Linked DNA regions of Homo sapiens. The protein of the gene in region 1 purifies or fractionates together with the protein of each later gene. This does not show direct contact. Each region holds a gene or a part of one and is shown on either strand. Other genes may lie near its edges.

What was found.
Region 2: the proteins of GNAT2 (region 1) and VPS13A purify together in Homo sapiens (affinity purification with mass spectrometry, with the first as the bait; one large-scale study listed by BioGRID). This does not show direct contact.
Region 3: the proteins of GNAT2 (region 1) and OCIAD1 purify together in Homo sapiens (affinity purification with mass spectrometry; 3 studies listed by BioGRID and IntAct, with this or other methods). This does not show direct contact.
Region 4: the proteins of GNAT2 (region 1) and UNC119B purify together in Homo sapiens (affinity purification with mass spectrometry; 2 studies listed by BioGRID and IntAct, with this or other methods). This does not show direct contact.

Annotation. Positions count from the first base shown.
Region 1 is NC_000001.11:109,609,617-109,613,116, forward strand, and holds part of GNAT2 (guanine nucleotide-binding protein G(t) subunit alpha-2), read right to left. Parts: intron 3,469-3,500; exon of another isoform or gene 3,308-3,468; 5' UTR 3,255-3,307; coding exon 3,137-3,254; intron 892-3,136; coding exon 849-891; intron 566-848; coding exon 424-565; intron 1-423. UniProt on the Homo sapiens protein: Guanine nucleotide-binding proteins (G proteins) are involved as modulators or transducers in various transmembrane signaling systems.
Region 2 is NC_000009.12:77,176,082-77,180,333, reverse strand, and holds the start of VPS13A (intermembrane lipid transfer protein VPS13A), read right to left. Parts: upstream 2,801-4,252; 5' UTR 2,630-2,800; coding exon 2,530-2,629; exon of another isoform or gene 2,417-2,529; intron 1-2,416. UniProt on the Homo sapiens protein: Mediates the transfer of lipids between membranes at organelle contact sites. Binds phospholipids. Required for the formation or stabilization of ER-mitochondria contact sites which enable transfer of lipids between the ER and mitochondria.
Region 3 is NC_000004.12:48,837,588-48,841,087, reverse strand, and holds part of OCIAD1 (OCIA domain-containing protein 1), read right to left. Parts: intron 1-3,500. UniProt on the Homo sapiens protein: Maintains stem cell potency. Increases STAT3 phosphorylation and controls ERK phosphorylation. May act as a scaffold, increasing STAT3 recruitment onto endosomes. Involved in integrin-mediated cancer cell adhesion and colony formation in ovarian cancer.
Region 4 is NC_000012.12:120,716,958-120,720,457, reverse strand, and holds part of UNC119B (protein unc-119 homolog B), read right to left. Parts: coding exon 3,416-3,500; intron 539-3,415; coding exon 426-538; 3' UTR 1-425. UniProt on the Homo sapiens protein: Myristoyl-binding protein that acts as a cargo adapter: specifically binds the myristoyl moiety of a subset of N-terminally myristoylated proteins and is required for their localization.

The DNA.
Region 1 (3,500 bases):
GGAAGACCCTGTCCCAGTAAAAATAAGGGTGGATGTTGCTTACTTCTCCAGGACTGCATAATTGTGGTGTATTATGAAAAATATTCAGCTTTGTAGTCAAGCAGCCCAATGCAAATGCAGTCTCTGCTATTTATCTACATGACCTTGGGCAGTTAATTAACTTCTCTGAACTTCAGTTTTTCCATGTGTAAAATGAGGCTAATTAGAAAGGTACCGTCTACCTTAAGGTCTTACTGCGTAGATGGGTAAAGGGCCTTGAGATGGTATACACAGTACACCTAGCAGTGAGATCCCACCCAGCAGGTGGGATTTTAGTTACTATTTTTCTTACCCATCTTTCCATATAGTTTGTTGGCCTCTGGTATGTTTCTTCTTGCTAGCCTTTCTGCTTCCACCCTTAACCACATAATAGTAATCACATACCGCACAGCTTGGTTCAGCATAATCGATGCCCAGTGTGGTCATGGCCCGGATGATAGCCAGGATGGACTGCAGCACATTTCCATAGATGATAGCCTTGAACTCCAGGCATTCTTCTGGTGAATAGCCATCCTGGTGAATGATCCTGCAAGGGGCAGACACTCTGTCTTTAGCTGGACCTGAGTAACCAGACCTAAGGGATTAGGAATTTGGGGGTATTTAAAGGATCATAAGAATCCTATCTCTCTGTTGCTACTGCTTTCTCAAAGTGGAGGGTGAGGGACAAGGGGTACAGATGAGGGGCATTGGAATCAGATCCTTTATACCTGGGCTCCTTGAGGCTAAAGAGCCTTTCACTTTGAATACCTCCACTGGCTGTACTGACTTCTTCACCCTATCTTGTCTTTTGGGGCTTTGTTTCTACTCACTTCATCTGTTTGACGATGGTGCTCTTTCCTGACTCCCCAGCACCTGGAAGGAAAAATGCTTATGCTTTCGATTTCCACCAGTTCTCCTCAGCCTTCCAGGAGATGGCCTGGGAGAAGTCAGAGCCACTGCTTGCTTGGGGGTCTTGTTAGGGGAGAATACATAGGGATGACTGCTGCCCTCAATTTCTGGCAGGCTTGAGCTCAGGCCATTCAACCTGGATTTAGAGCAGTTTCTTAACTTCAGTACTATTTAGTTTGGGCTGTCTCATGCATGGTAGGATGTTCAGCAGCATTCCTGGCCTCTACCCACTAGAGGCCAATAGCATCCCACTTCCCTAGTTATGACAACCAAAAGTGTCTCCAGACATTTCCAAATGACCACTGGCAGTCAAAATCTTCCTGTTGAAAACCACTAACAGATTCAGGGGGAGTCCTTTAACATTTCTCCTCTCTGCCTATTTTTGACTCAGGAGAGTGATCTTGGGGTAGGATTGGAGAGAGCTGGATCATTTCACCAAAATAACTATATTTTCATCACCTTGCTGGTTCCCTTTTTTTTTTTTGAGACAGGGTCTCAGGTTTGTAGCCCAGGCTGGAGTGTAATGGCACAATCTCGGCTTACTGCAGCCTTGACTTCCCAGGCTCAAGTGATCCTCCCACCTCAGTCTCCTGAGTAGTTGGGATTCCAGGTGTGCGACATCATGCCCGACTACATTTTTTTTTTTTTTTTTGAGACAGTCTTGCTCTGTCTCCCAGGCTGGAGTGCAGTGGTGCTATCTTGGCTCACTGCAACCTCTGCCTCCTGGGTTTTAAGCAATTCTTCTGCCTCAGCCTCCTGAGTAGCTGGGACTCTACAGGCGCATGCCACCATGCCTGACTAATTTTTGTATTTTTAGTAGAAATGGGGTTTCACTATGTTGGCCAGGCTGGTCTCAAACTCCTGACCTCAGGTAGATCCACCCATCTTGGCCTCCCAAAGCGCTGGGATTACAGGCGTGCGCCACTGCATCCGGCCATTTCCCCCCGCCCCTCCGTAGAGGCAGGTTTTCACCATGTTGCTCAACCTGGTCTTGGATGGGGCTAAGTGGGTTCCCTTTATTGACTAATGTGTCCTAATGTCCTCATTCACACTCTGCTCTCTCCATCAAAAACTCATACCTTCTAGTACTGAGTTTATACTACCCTAATGCCTCGAACTCCTCCTATTTCGCTTGTGCTTGTTCCCTCTAAGCAGCTTATCCTGAATGTAGAAGAAATCTGCTTAGGCTTAAAAGATCTCTCAGTGGCCCCACCATCTCTGTTTCCCCCTGCGTAACCTCCTGGGCTCCTTAGAGTCTGGTCCAGCTTACAAAGATATGCTCCTTTAGTGTGTCCTTACGACTGTGCCACAGATCAGCTGGGGGAAAAGAAGGTGCCTTAGCCTAGTGCGTCAGCTCCCAGATCCCTTATGGGGGCTTGGAAACCCAGCTCAGGCATCTAATCTTCTGCTACGTAGACCCTACCTGCTCCAGCTACCCTACTTCTGTGGTACCAGTGGTTTGTTTTCCTAAGCCACGTGTCTCAAATGTTCTTGTCTTGGTTTTATTTACAGCTGTGATCAATTTCCCTGACAAATTGAGGTGCTTTTATTTTCTCAGCACAGACCAGTGATCTGCTTAGGAGCTCATCAAGTTGATGAACCTTCCATCTGGCAGGAGCTTTGCAGGCAGCTATTGAATAGAGAGCCAGGAAGGGACTGCTGTACATAAAGACACCATTCCTCCTTCCTCAGAGCCCCCTACTTCCAAAGTTTTTACTGAAAGCAAGAAGGAACCACTATACTTGGCAAAAACCAGTGGGACTATCTCTGGTACTGTTGGCACTGACTGTATGGTGGGACTTGTGAGCCTGTTGGTGAGGGAAGGTCCTGTTCTCTTCTGATTTCTTGGCTTAGAGTTCTCTGCAGATTGGGTACAGTCTGCAAGTCCAGGGTCCTTGAAGCCAAAAGGATGTGTTAGGTTTGGTTAGATTTGGAAATGGGTGGGTTCATGGTGGCCCTTGCACTATTCCTCGCTCAAGAGTAGAAAAACTCTGGAATAGCCTTGGCATTCTGGATCCCCTTGGGGTGGCTGTTTAGGCCCCATATTAACTCAGCTCTAGATCTCCTGATCCCCTAGCCAGACTGTGTAGAGGAGAGGAAAAATGACCTGCCACCCTTCCTTCCCATGGGGTGAGGTAGAACCCACCAACCCTTCAGGAAAGTAGGAAGGACCCCTGCCTTCTCTGGCTCATCTTCCCATCTCACTCACCCAGCAGTAGCAGCTTGACAGTCTTGGCTTCCTTATCAGCATCCTCCTGCAGCTTCTTTTCTAGCTCCTTGGACCTCTTGGCCAGTTCTTTGTCCTCAGCACTGGCTCCACTTCCCATATTTGCCGTCTTGTCAGCTTTTTCAGGCCCCTAATCCTCTCTCGTAAGGTTTCCTGTATGTGAGATGGAAGAGAAGGAAAAAAGTTGGGATTGAGTATCCCAACTTGGCTCCCCTAAAAGCTGGTCTGTACGATGGCAGGTGAGAGAGCAGGCTGTAGGGTCTTGTACTCTGCCTACATTGACTGAGACTCCCTACTTCAACTGGAGACCTACTTCTTAGTCTAGGGATTGTAGCCTTTATATCTA
Region 2 (4,252 bases), on another chromosome or scaffold:
CAAAACTCAACCATAAGAAAACAAACACTCTGGAAAAAGAGTTTGGCTGTTCCTCAAAAGGTTACACAAAGTCAGCATATGACCCAGCAATTCCACTTCTAGGTATATATCCAAGAGAATTTAAAACATACATCCACAAAAAAACTTGTACATGAATGTTCAGTGGCATTATTCATAATATCCAAAAGGTGGATGTTTAGGAATAATCTAAACATCCAGCAACTGGTGAGTATAGATAAATAAATTGTGGTCTATGAATATAATGGAATATTATTCAACCCTAAGAGCAAATGAAATAGTCATACATCCTTCAACATGGAGGAACCTTGAAAATACATTAGGTTAAAGAAGCCAGAAACAAAAGGCCACATATCATATAATTCCATTTAAATGAAATGTCCAGAATTACCAAATCCATAAAGACAGAAAGATTAGTGGTTGCCAGAGGTGGAGTAGTGAGAAGGGAGGAAATTGGGAGTCACTCCTAATGGACATACGATTTAATTTTGGGGTGCTGAAATATTCCGGAATGAGAGAGTGGTGATGGTTGTACAATTTTGTGACTATACTAAAAAACACTGAATTGTACATTTTAAAAGAGTGAAATTTATGGTATATGAAATAAATCTCAAAAAAAAAAAAAAAACGTACAACCCAATTTAAAACCACTCTTAGGTATTTATCCAAGAGAAATAACAATTATGTTCACACAAACACCCGTACGTGAATGTTTATGACGGCTTTATTTATAACCTCCAAAAACTGAAATATTCTTCAACCAGCAAACAGATAAATACTTACAGTCAGGCGGGCGCAGTGGCTCACGCCTGTAATCCCAGCACTTTGGGAGGCAGAGGCAGGCGGATTACTTGAGGTCAGGAGTTTGAGACCAGCCTGGCCAACATTGCAAAACCCCCTCTCTACTAAAAATTAGCCGGGCGTGGTGGCGGGGTGAGATCAACTGCAAAGGAGCAGCTGAGAGAATTCGGGAGGCTTGATGAACCTTTTATGTGCCATTATTGTGGTGGTGCATACATGCCTCTTAGCATTTGTCAAGACAGAACTGTATCACAAGAGTGAATTTTACTGCATGTAAATTTTAAACAAATAAATAAGTTGATTAATCACACTCTAGACAAACCTCCACCCTGAATGTGGAAGCAAGACTCCACTACAGATCAAAGTTCACCTCAAGTATTCTTAAGGCTTCCTTCTGAGGTACATGGGAGACAAATTTTATTTTCACTTTGCAACTAAGAAGCAGCATAAACAGACTGCAAGTTTCTTGTACTAATCAAACAGGCTGAGCAGCTATCACTATATCCCTAGCTTTTGTAGTCCACTCACTCTCCATCATGATACTAGGTCCCCACGGTAGTAACATTCTTTAAAATCAAACTAAACTACCTGTTTACATTATCTCATAAACGAGAAGAGTCAAGGTAAGTATTTTAGAAGAAGACTGGAAGTGTGTGCACAGACAAGAATAAATTACTTTAAATATATATTTAAACACACACACTTCACACACAAAATTAACCCTCACTTTGGCCTGGGAAATTCATTTCACAAAGGAGTCTAATTTCTAGCGGGTGTTTAAAATAAACAAGCGCATAATGCAAAAACAGATGGAAACACTAAAAATGAGGCTCTCACTAAGGCAGAATACCACACTAAACGGACACAAGGAAAGCTCGGTCCTTCACCACCTAGGCAGCGTAGGGCCCTGTTCAGCCCGGTCTTTTGCAGGTCTGAGACGTTGCACCGCACGCCCTGGTTTTTCTTTAAAATTCGGCAATTCACTCTGACCCACATATCCTAAAGTCTTGAAAATGTTACACATTCCTAGGTCAGGCTGTTAACTGCAACCACACAAGCAACTGTTTGAGTTACTTTGCACTTGAGTTTCCTTTTTGTTATCCGCCGAACCCAGGCGAGAGAGAGCCGGCGTCCGGGTCCTAGGGCCGGAAGGGGGAGAGCAGAAAGCACCACGGGTGAAGCCAGGAATTGAGGCTGGGGAAGCAAGGAAGCGGGCGTCCCCGGTCACAGCGCCCTGCCTTCACGTGCGAGGCAGCATGCAACACGCGGGGGATTTCTGGGGCCTTCGTCATAAACCCAGGGGGGCAAAGGACAGGGATGGGACCCAGCCCAGGAAGGCGTCGTCTCGCCTCCTCGCCCCGCGCGGCTAAAGCCGGACCGTGCGGGGCCAGGGGTAGAGAACGGCCCCTCGCCGGGACTTGAACGCCAGACCCACGGAGCCCACGGCAAGTCCGCTCCGCTCGGAAAATATAGACCTTTTCATCCCGCACTCATGACCCTCTCCTTTCCCCCAAAATATAAACAACTCGAGGGCGGAGGCCAGGGAACTGCCGCCCGGCTTTACGTAACTTGACCCACAGGCGGGCGGCGGCAGGTGGCTGCACCCGGCGAGCAAGGTGCTCGAAGCCCCGAGAACGCAGGACGCCGCTCGGGCAGCGAGACGGCCGGGAAGCACGAGAGGCCGGGGAGCGGCGGCGGCGGCCTCCTTACCTTTCCAGATGCCCAGAGAGAGCTGGGACGTGTCCAAGTCCACCACATAGTCCCCCAAGAACCGGTTCAACACGTCCACGACCACCGACTCGAAAACCATGTTCCTCAGCCGTGGTGGGCACGGCAGCCGGCCCGTGCGCTCCTCCTCCCGCCGCCTTCCCCACGCCCCTCCCTCGAGGTAATTCGGTTCACCGGCTCCGGGGCGGCTTCAGCTGCGGCGCCCCCGCTGGCCCAACGCGCAGCCCTAGCGAGCCCAGCGAGAGACGGAGGCGGTCGCTCTCACGACGCGTGCGCAAGTCTGCGCGCGGCTGGAGGCGGAGCGCGGCGCAGACCTGGGCGCGCAGCCCTGAGAGGGAGGAAAGGCGGCTGCGCGGCCGCGGCTCTGGAGGGTGCCCTTTTCGCGCCGAGCCCGGCTCCTCTTTCCTGTCGGCCCCGCCTCCTCCCCATCGCCTGGCAACGGGACACCGGTCTGGAGCTACCGGATTTTTTCCGACCCCGCCCCCTCCTGCAGATCAGCGTCCCCAGCGGCCCCCCAGGGCGGGGCGGTTACGCCCGACGGGAACGCCCCTCCCCCTAGAAGGTGGTGGCCGCTTCCACGCGTATGACAGGGCTCGCCCCTGAGTAAGGGTGGGCGGATCCCAGCCCCGTCGCCAGAAGCTTCAAGGGGGCTGTCCCAGGGAGCATCTCCCCTCATCATTACAGGGTGGGAGGGTCCAGCCAGCCTGGGTGTCTTGGTGCCTGTAACCTCCCCGCCTGGTCCTCCGACCGCCTGGCTCTCAGGAGGAGTTAACTTCCTGCTGCGAGTCGAGGATGGAGTTACATAGTCCCTGCCCTGCATCTGAGATGAGCACCCATTTTTGGTCAAGTCATTTATACGGAGCTGTCTTTCATTCCAAAGAGTAACACGCTTCCCTGCAGATAAGAGTTGGAGTCAGCCGGTCTGGAAACTGCTGAACACCCTCCAAGAAATACTGGGAGTGCTGGACCCTTGACCCCTATGCCTCCACCGAACCACTGACCTAAAATAAATTACAATTACAGATCTTTCGACCTGTTTGGTCTTACTTAGAAGTAATCCCAAAGGCCTGAGGTCACAGAGATGCTAAATGTGAGGTTTAGAGAACTGTAATTAATCATCTGCAGGACCGAAAAAGTGTACATTGAGCGTTTTCTCTTTACACGTTAAATGAATAATGATGGATTTCTATTAATTCCTGTGTCATTTTACTACTTTTTGTGCATAGTCACCGACTTTTCAAAATTAAATGTTTAGGGTGTGCCTTTGCAAGTAGAATGCCTGACAAAAACTGTAAGTTTTTACCTGAGTTTATGAATGTTTTTCATATAATTTTATATTTGAAGGACCTTTATGAGGTCTCCAACCTCCTAGTCTTAAATATAATGAAGCTGAAGTGTTAGGGATGTGTGCAAGGTCATACAACCAATGTTCTGTGGAAGAACTGGAACTTGGCCCTTCTGATTGGCTACCACCCCACCTGCTTCTCTCTCATTCAGCTAACAGTCTGCTTCAGAATACCTGCACGGAGAAACGAATAGAGGCTAAAATGCCTAGGAAGGGGAAGAGCTCTACATAATGAGGCATTTTGCCATTGCACTATTAATAAGAAGCCAGATACACAGTAGCTGCAAAATTCCGCTGTTATATCTAGCGCTGCAAATTCAAAGTTACAAGAATTTCCAGAACTCCAAAAATCCATCTTAA
Region 3 (3,500 bases), on another chromosome or scaffold:
CATGTAATTTCACACGTAATGAAATATTCTTTTCCTTTGATTTCTTAACCATTTTATCTTATTTTATGTTTTTAGACAAAGTCTCACTCTATCACCAAGGCTGGAATGCAGTGGTACAATCTCATCTCACTGCAGCCTCAACCTGCCGGCTCAGATGATCCTCCTGCTTCAGCCTCCCAAGTGGTTGGGACTACAGGCATGCACCGCCATGCCTGGCTAATTTTTTGTCTTTTTTCTTTTTTTTTTTTTTTTTTGTAGAGATGAGGTTTCGCCAAGTTGCCCAGGCTGGTCTCGATCTCCTTGGTTCAAGTAATCAGCCCACCTCAGCCTCCCAAAGTGCTGGGATTACAGGCGTGAGCCACTGCACCCAGCCTCTTAACCATTTAAAAATGTAAAAACAATTCTTAGCTCATGCATACAAAAACAGATTTGGTCCATGGGCTAGTTTGTTCAACTCTGGTCTAAACCATATATGGACAATTTAAGAACCAAAGTAATTAAGACATTTGAATTATTACAGATTTCATGATTAAAATCCATCACTTTGGAATAGGGCATTAACTTTGCCATCACACACAAATTGCACAAACGCTAAGGTCTGAATTCATGCTATCCTACTTACTAACAGATTTTACCTTTGCTGGAAATATGGTTTCTTTAATGTTGGCTAGTTAGAATGCCTTCATGCATTATCATTTATCATTTAAGGTTTTGCAAAGGACAAATCCCTTTTAATTACAGCACCAGTACAATTTGCAATCATTTTTCTCCAGCTTGACTCAAGGATTGCAACATGAAGCACTGAAGAATCATATAAGAATAAAAGGCAATGAGTTAGCTGGCCATTTCTACAATGGATAATGCTTTCCCCATTTAATGCAGAGTAATAGTCTGTTCGAGGAGATTCTAGTACTAGTTCTGCCATTCACCACAATGTCTTTGCATAGCTTCTTCTCATGCTATAAAGGAATAATGGATTAGACCTAAGGTCTCATTCCAACTCAGGTATTCTACTTTATGTCACAGAAAAAGACAATGGTAAGACTGAAAGAGGCTTCAGAGATTATCTAGTCCTCATTCCAATCTGAGTACACTAATATCCAGAAAAGACAAGTCATTTGCTCAAAGCAACACAGCTGGTTAGTTTGTGGTAATGCTGAGATCAGAACCCAAGTCTCCTGACTCCCTAGTCAGTGGCCTTTTCCACTACAGTATGTAATATCTATTTTGTTAAATAATCTGTCTCTATAGGCAAATCAGTAATACTGCTGACCAAAACCTAGTGCACATTATTACCACAGTCCCAAACTATATTCAATATATACAAGAATCCCTACAATTATTTGAACTCTTCTCCCCTCACAGTAACAAAAAGCTACTCTATATTCCTAACTGTAGTCAATAAAAATTTTTATTTCATTAATCATAATAACACTAATAGCTATTTAATAAAGATAGCCAACACTTAATTAAATTGCATTAATCCCTATAATAATTTCATGAGCTAGGCAGTTATCCCCATTTTATAGATAAGAAAAGTATAGCACAGACCTCAGGAACTTGTCCAAAATCTCACAGCTACTGTGTGTGGAGCTGGGATTTGAATCCAGCCAATCAGGCCTCAGAGTCCATACTCTTTTTTTTTTTTTTTTGAGATGAAGTCTCGCTTTGTCACCCAGGCTGGAGTGCAATGTCACAATCCTGACTCAATGCAACCTCTGCCTCCCGAGTTCAAGCCATTCTCCTGCCTCAGCCTCCCAAGAAGCTGGGACTACAGGCATGTGCCACCACACCTGGCTAATTTTTGTATTTTTAGTAGAGACAGGGTTTCACCATGTTAGCCAGGCTGGTCTTGAACTCTTGACCTCAAGTGATCCACCCACCTCGGCCTCTCAAAATGCTGGGATTACAGGTGTGAGCCACCATGCCTGGCCCATACTCTTATCACTCTTATACTGTATCATTTGAAAACTAGTAGTACACATATATGAAATATTATTCATAGACTCCAGCTGATACAAATATGAACTGATACATCTTTTTAGTAATTCTGGAGTTTGAGAACTATTTTAACATGAATATGCAATAAACTGACCCTATATGCACAGGGTCTTCACTACCTGTGTGTTTGGGCACAGACATAGTGATTTTAGGTCAGTGCATAGGGTCACGATTTTAAGCACCTAGAAATAAGATGCCTTCATAGTTATATTTCAGATTAATGGAATGTAGGTCAGTATAGAAACATAGTTATCTTAAGGAAAGAGAATGGTCCCTAGATCAACAAGTCTAATTTTAGAAGAGGATAAGTATTTTAACAGACCTAAAAAATGTATAAAAAATTACCTTAGTAAGTGCTTTTTTATAAATTCGTAAATGCTTTTATCACCTTTTTCTAATCCAAGGTGATACTCTCCAAAGTAACAGATGCCATTATTTGTTTACATAAATGTCACATACAGCATAGACTATCTAATTCGAAAGTACAAATGTTAAAGTACAAAATTTCCTATGTATGATTATCATCCTTCTGATAATTATACGTTGAACTTCCTATCACCTGGTTACAACCAAGCTTCTACATTTCAATGTTTGATGCTATAATATGCAACAACACCTTGGTTATCTGTTTTGAGAGTGAAATGCTACCTATTAATACAGTAATTTTTTGGCTGCTGTAATTTCTCAGTAATGTAGATATGGTATAAAATTAACAAGCTGTCTTTCAGCCTGTCCTTATCACATGCTTTTTGTCTTTTTTTTTTTTTTTGAGATGGAGTCTCGCTCTGTCGCCCAGGCTGGAGTGCAGTGGCACGATCTTGGCTTGCTGCAACCTCTGCCTCCCGGGTTCAAGCGATTCTCCTGTCTCAGCCTCTCGAGTAGCTGGAATTACAGGCACCTGCCACCATGCTCAGCTAATTTTTGTATTCTTAGTAGAGACGGGGTTTCACCATATAGGTCAGGCTGGTCTCGAACTCCTGACCTCAGGTGATCTGCCTGCCTCAGCCTCCCAAAGTGCTGGGATTACAGGTGTGAGCCACCAAGCCCAGCCGCTTTTTGTCTTTTCAACCTGTGATTTATCTGTTTTAATGCACAGAAATCACTTAGCTTTGTACTGTTCATATACCACATGTCCCACTATTAAGAGTCTGGTATACACGGGCATCCTGACATTGTTCACTACCCTTTAATGTACTTTTGGCATAAACCTGTCACAGCTATTTAGATTGTTAAACACCTGCAGCAGCATACATTTATCAGCCAGAAATAAATCTGGACACCTTAGCATCTATTTAACCGTTAGCCCAACACTACAATAATCCCAAATCCCCTCTATCACACTTGCCTTTTTCTTAATCCTGTGTCATCAAGACTTAAAAATAGATCATTTTATCCTATCTACTCTATATAATCTTCAAAGATTTAAAAAAAAAAAAAAAAAAAAGAACTGTTGCTGGAGTATACAGCCAAGTTCTCTAAGAAATTCTTCCCATTCTGGC
Region 4 (3,500 bases), on another chromosome or scaffold:
GAGGCCTACCTTTCAGCTTCCCACAGCACCCAGGAACCTTAAGAGCTGCTGACCTGCTGGTGGGCCTGGCCAGAGCCTTCTCACCAGGCACAGCTATGCCTGGTCGTCAAGACAACCAACAGGCAGCCAGAACTACGGAAAATAAACTTTTTTATCTGGATTCCAGGACCCTTATCCTAACCTTTTACTTTACTATAGTACCTCTGCAACCTACGGGGCAGGAAAAAAAGGGAAGAAAAAATACTGGGGAAGAAAACACAGCACTGTTTGGCAGCTCCTTTGGCGCGCAGGAAACTGCCACCCCAGCCTTGGCTTCCTGGGGCCAGGTTCCAGATGTGTGTTGACAAACTGCAGCTTCGATCATCTCCGTGTGCCAGGATCTTGTGGCCGCGGCAAAGCACCTCCCCTATCTACTCTTGCAGCACTTACTGGCCTCCATTATAGGCATAATCAGCCTTGTTGTGCATTATCAGCTTGTTGTCAACAAAGTAGAAGCTGTCAGAGCGGGTCTCGTAAGGATTTTCAATCATTAGACGAACTGCAAGTCAGGCAAAGGGGGAAGAAAAAAGCAAAGAATTATGTTTGAGTCTGCCCCACAGGGTAGGTGGGAGAAAACTTTGCATCCCCTCCAAAATAAGCCAGCGCTTCAGAGTATACTCTGCCAGAATAACGATGAGGTCAGAACAGAGGGAGGCAGCCCTTGACAGCTGGGGAGACCACAGAGGCCCCCCAGCTGAACATGATCTCCATTTCAACATAAGGATGCAATCAACTCTCCACCATGGCCTCCTCTGTCATCTCCAGCCTGGATTCTTCAGCCAAGATACCAGGGAAATGTGCTCACCCCTCTTCCCAACATGGACCCCACCAACCTATTTACTCAGTGCTCTCAGCTGACCAAAGCCAGCCCTGGCCTCTGGTCAGTGGCCCACCTCTAGACATTCCACTCCAAATTCAGAAATCTGAGCCTCACTGTGCCCACCTCCACACACAACCCTGACAACCCAAGGAAACCTAGATTGGAATGAGTGCAAGGAACACAGGGCAGGGAGCCTTCTCCGGAGACCTTCTGGGTATTAACTCGCAAATGATTCAGCAATAGGTCTGCCTGTCTTGGGATCTAAAGTAAAGTCTTGTTTGTTCAGGCAATTGCCCAGACCTCTTTAACCATACTGGAGAGTAAAGATAATTAACAGTCACTACCTCTGATCAGTTTTGAGTTAATGATTACATGCCATTTTGAGTCTTTAACCATACTGGAGAATAAAGATAATACTACCTCTGATCAGTTTTGAGTTAATGATTACATGCCATTTGGAGTCCCCTGGAGGAAATGCTGTTGCTCACCACAGTTCTCAAAAAGTGAAACTGATTTTTTAAAGTTCTTTGAACCCACCAATGCCAAAACTACTCGGTTTATATGCATAATATTGCCCTCCAGGCTGATTTGGCTTCATGGGTAAAACTTATAACACTATACATCATCTTTTCTTGCAAGTATCTACATATTCTAGCCAGCTTGGGAAGAGGGGTTCAAGTCAGAACCAGATGCTGTCGTCAACACCCTGCCCCACATCTCAGCAATCCTCATTTTACCTGGGAACTGTACTGCCACACGATTAAAGGTTATCTGGTTTTCAGAATATGACAATTCTTAAGGACCTGGGATTCTGAGAGGACCAATCAGTGATGCCAGCAAGGCAACTACAGGCATCACTAGTCACAGGATTCTATTCACACCCTCATAAATGACTTGAATTTTCCCTAACTATTCACAAAGGATGCGAACCTGAGGTGGCTAGGCCAAAGTTGCAGAAACTGACAAGGGCTGTTCTTTCTCTCTCGTTTGGTCCCCATCTTCCCTTGCCGAGGCTACACGGCAGCAGCCTTCTCCCTCTGGTGCCCTCCCCAGGTCTAGGCCACTCTTCCTCAAACAGTATTTCCACCTTCTCACTCCTGCCCCAAAATCTACAACAGCCCCATTCCTTCCTGCTGGATCTATCTCAACACTTTATCCAATCAACTCTCTATCCTGCAGGGAATGGAAAAGAAGTCCTCTGGCCTTGATTCTATTTAGCCTGCAGTTTCACATCTAGCTCTGATTAAGAAAAAAGTGAAGGGCCAATGACTAAAACACAATGGAAAACCATGACTAACAGTGCACAGGAGAGGTGCTTTATCTGATCAGCGTCCCAGGGATGGTCACAGGCCTCCTTTTATCTCCCTTAGGCACTGTCTTCCCACAGGAGGCATCTAAAAGGATGGCCTGTATTATTAAAACCTTCAGACCGGCCGGGCGCAGTGGCTCAAGCCTGTAATTCCAGCACTTTGGGAGGCCGAAGCAGGCGGATCACGAGGTCAGGAGATTGGGACTATCCTGGCTAACACGGTGAAACCCCGTCTCTACTAAAAATACAAAAAATTAGCCGGGCATGGTGGTGGGCACCTGTAGTCTCAGCTACTCAGGAGGCTGAGGCAGAATGGCATGAACCCAGGAGGCAGAGCTTGCAGTGAGCCGAGATTGCGCCACTGCACTCCAGCCTGGGTGACAAGATCAAGACTCCGTCTCAAAAAGAAAAAAAAAAAAAACCTTCAGACTGAGCACAGTGGCTCACGCCTGTAATCCCCAGTACTTTGGGAGGATGAGGCAGGTGGATCACAGGGTCAGGAGTTCGAGACCAGCCTGACCAACATGGTGAAACTCTGTCTCTACAAAAAATACAAAAAATTAGCCGGGCATGGTGGCAGGTGCCTATAATCCCAGCTACTCGAGAGGCTGAGGCAGGAGAATCACTTGAACCCAGGAGACGGAGGATGCACTGAGCCAAGACTGCGCCACTGCACTCCAGCCTGGGCAATAGGGCAAGACTCCGTCTCAAAAAAAAAAGAAAAAAACAAAAGGGCCGGGGGCAGTGGCTCACACCTGTAATCCCAGCATTGTGGGAGGCCGAGGAGAGTGGATCATGAGGTCAAGTGTTCGAGACCAGCCTGACCAACATGGTGAAATCCCGTCTCTACTGAAAATACAAAAACTAGCCAAGTGTGGTGTAATCCCAGCTACTCAGGAGGCTGAGGCAGGAGAATCGCTTGAACCTGGGAGGCAGAGGTTACAGTGAGCCGAGATCGCGCTGCTGCACTCCAGCCTGGGCAACAGACAGAGCAAGACTCTGTCTCAGGGGAAAAAAACAAAAACAAAAACAAACAAACCCTTCATTGCTCCCATACGGGCCGAGTCAGAGTTTAGAACAGGAGCCAGGAGCAATAGGAAATGAGAAGCCTGAGGTCAAATGACTAGATACGCATCATGTCAGCACTGCCACGAGACAATGCCAGGGCGCTGGACCAGATGGGTTTCAAGGTTTGTTCCTTGTAGCCCTCAGAATCTAGAGTGCTGTAAGGGTCAGGGGATACATACTGACATCCTCCGAAAGCTGGGGAAACTCATAGATATGTTCACAAGTGTTCCTACTGCTGGGGATGCAGAAGCCAAAATCAAAGTC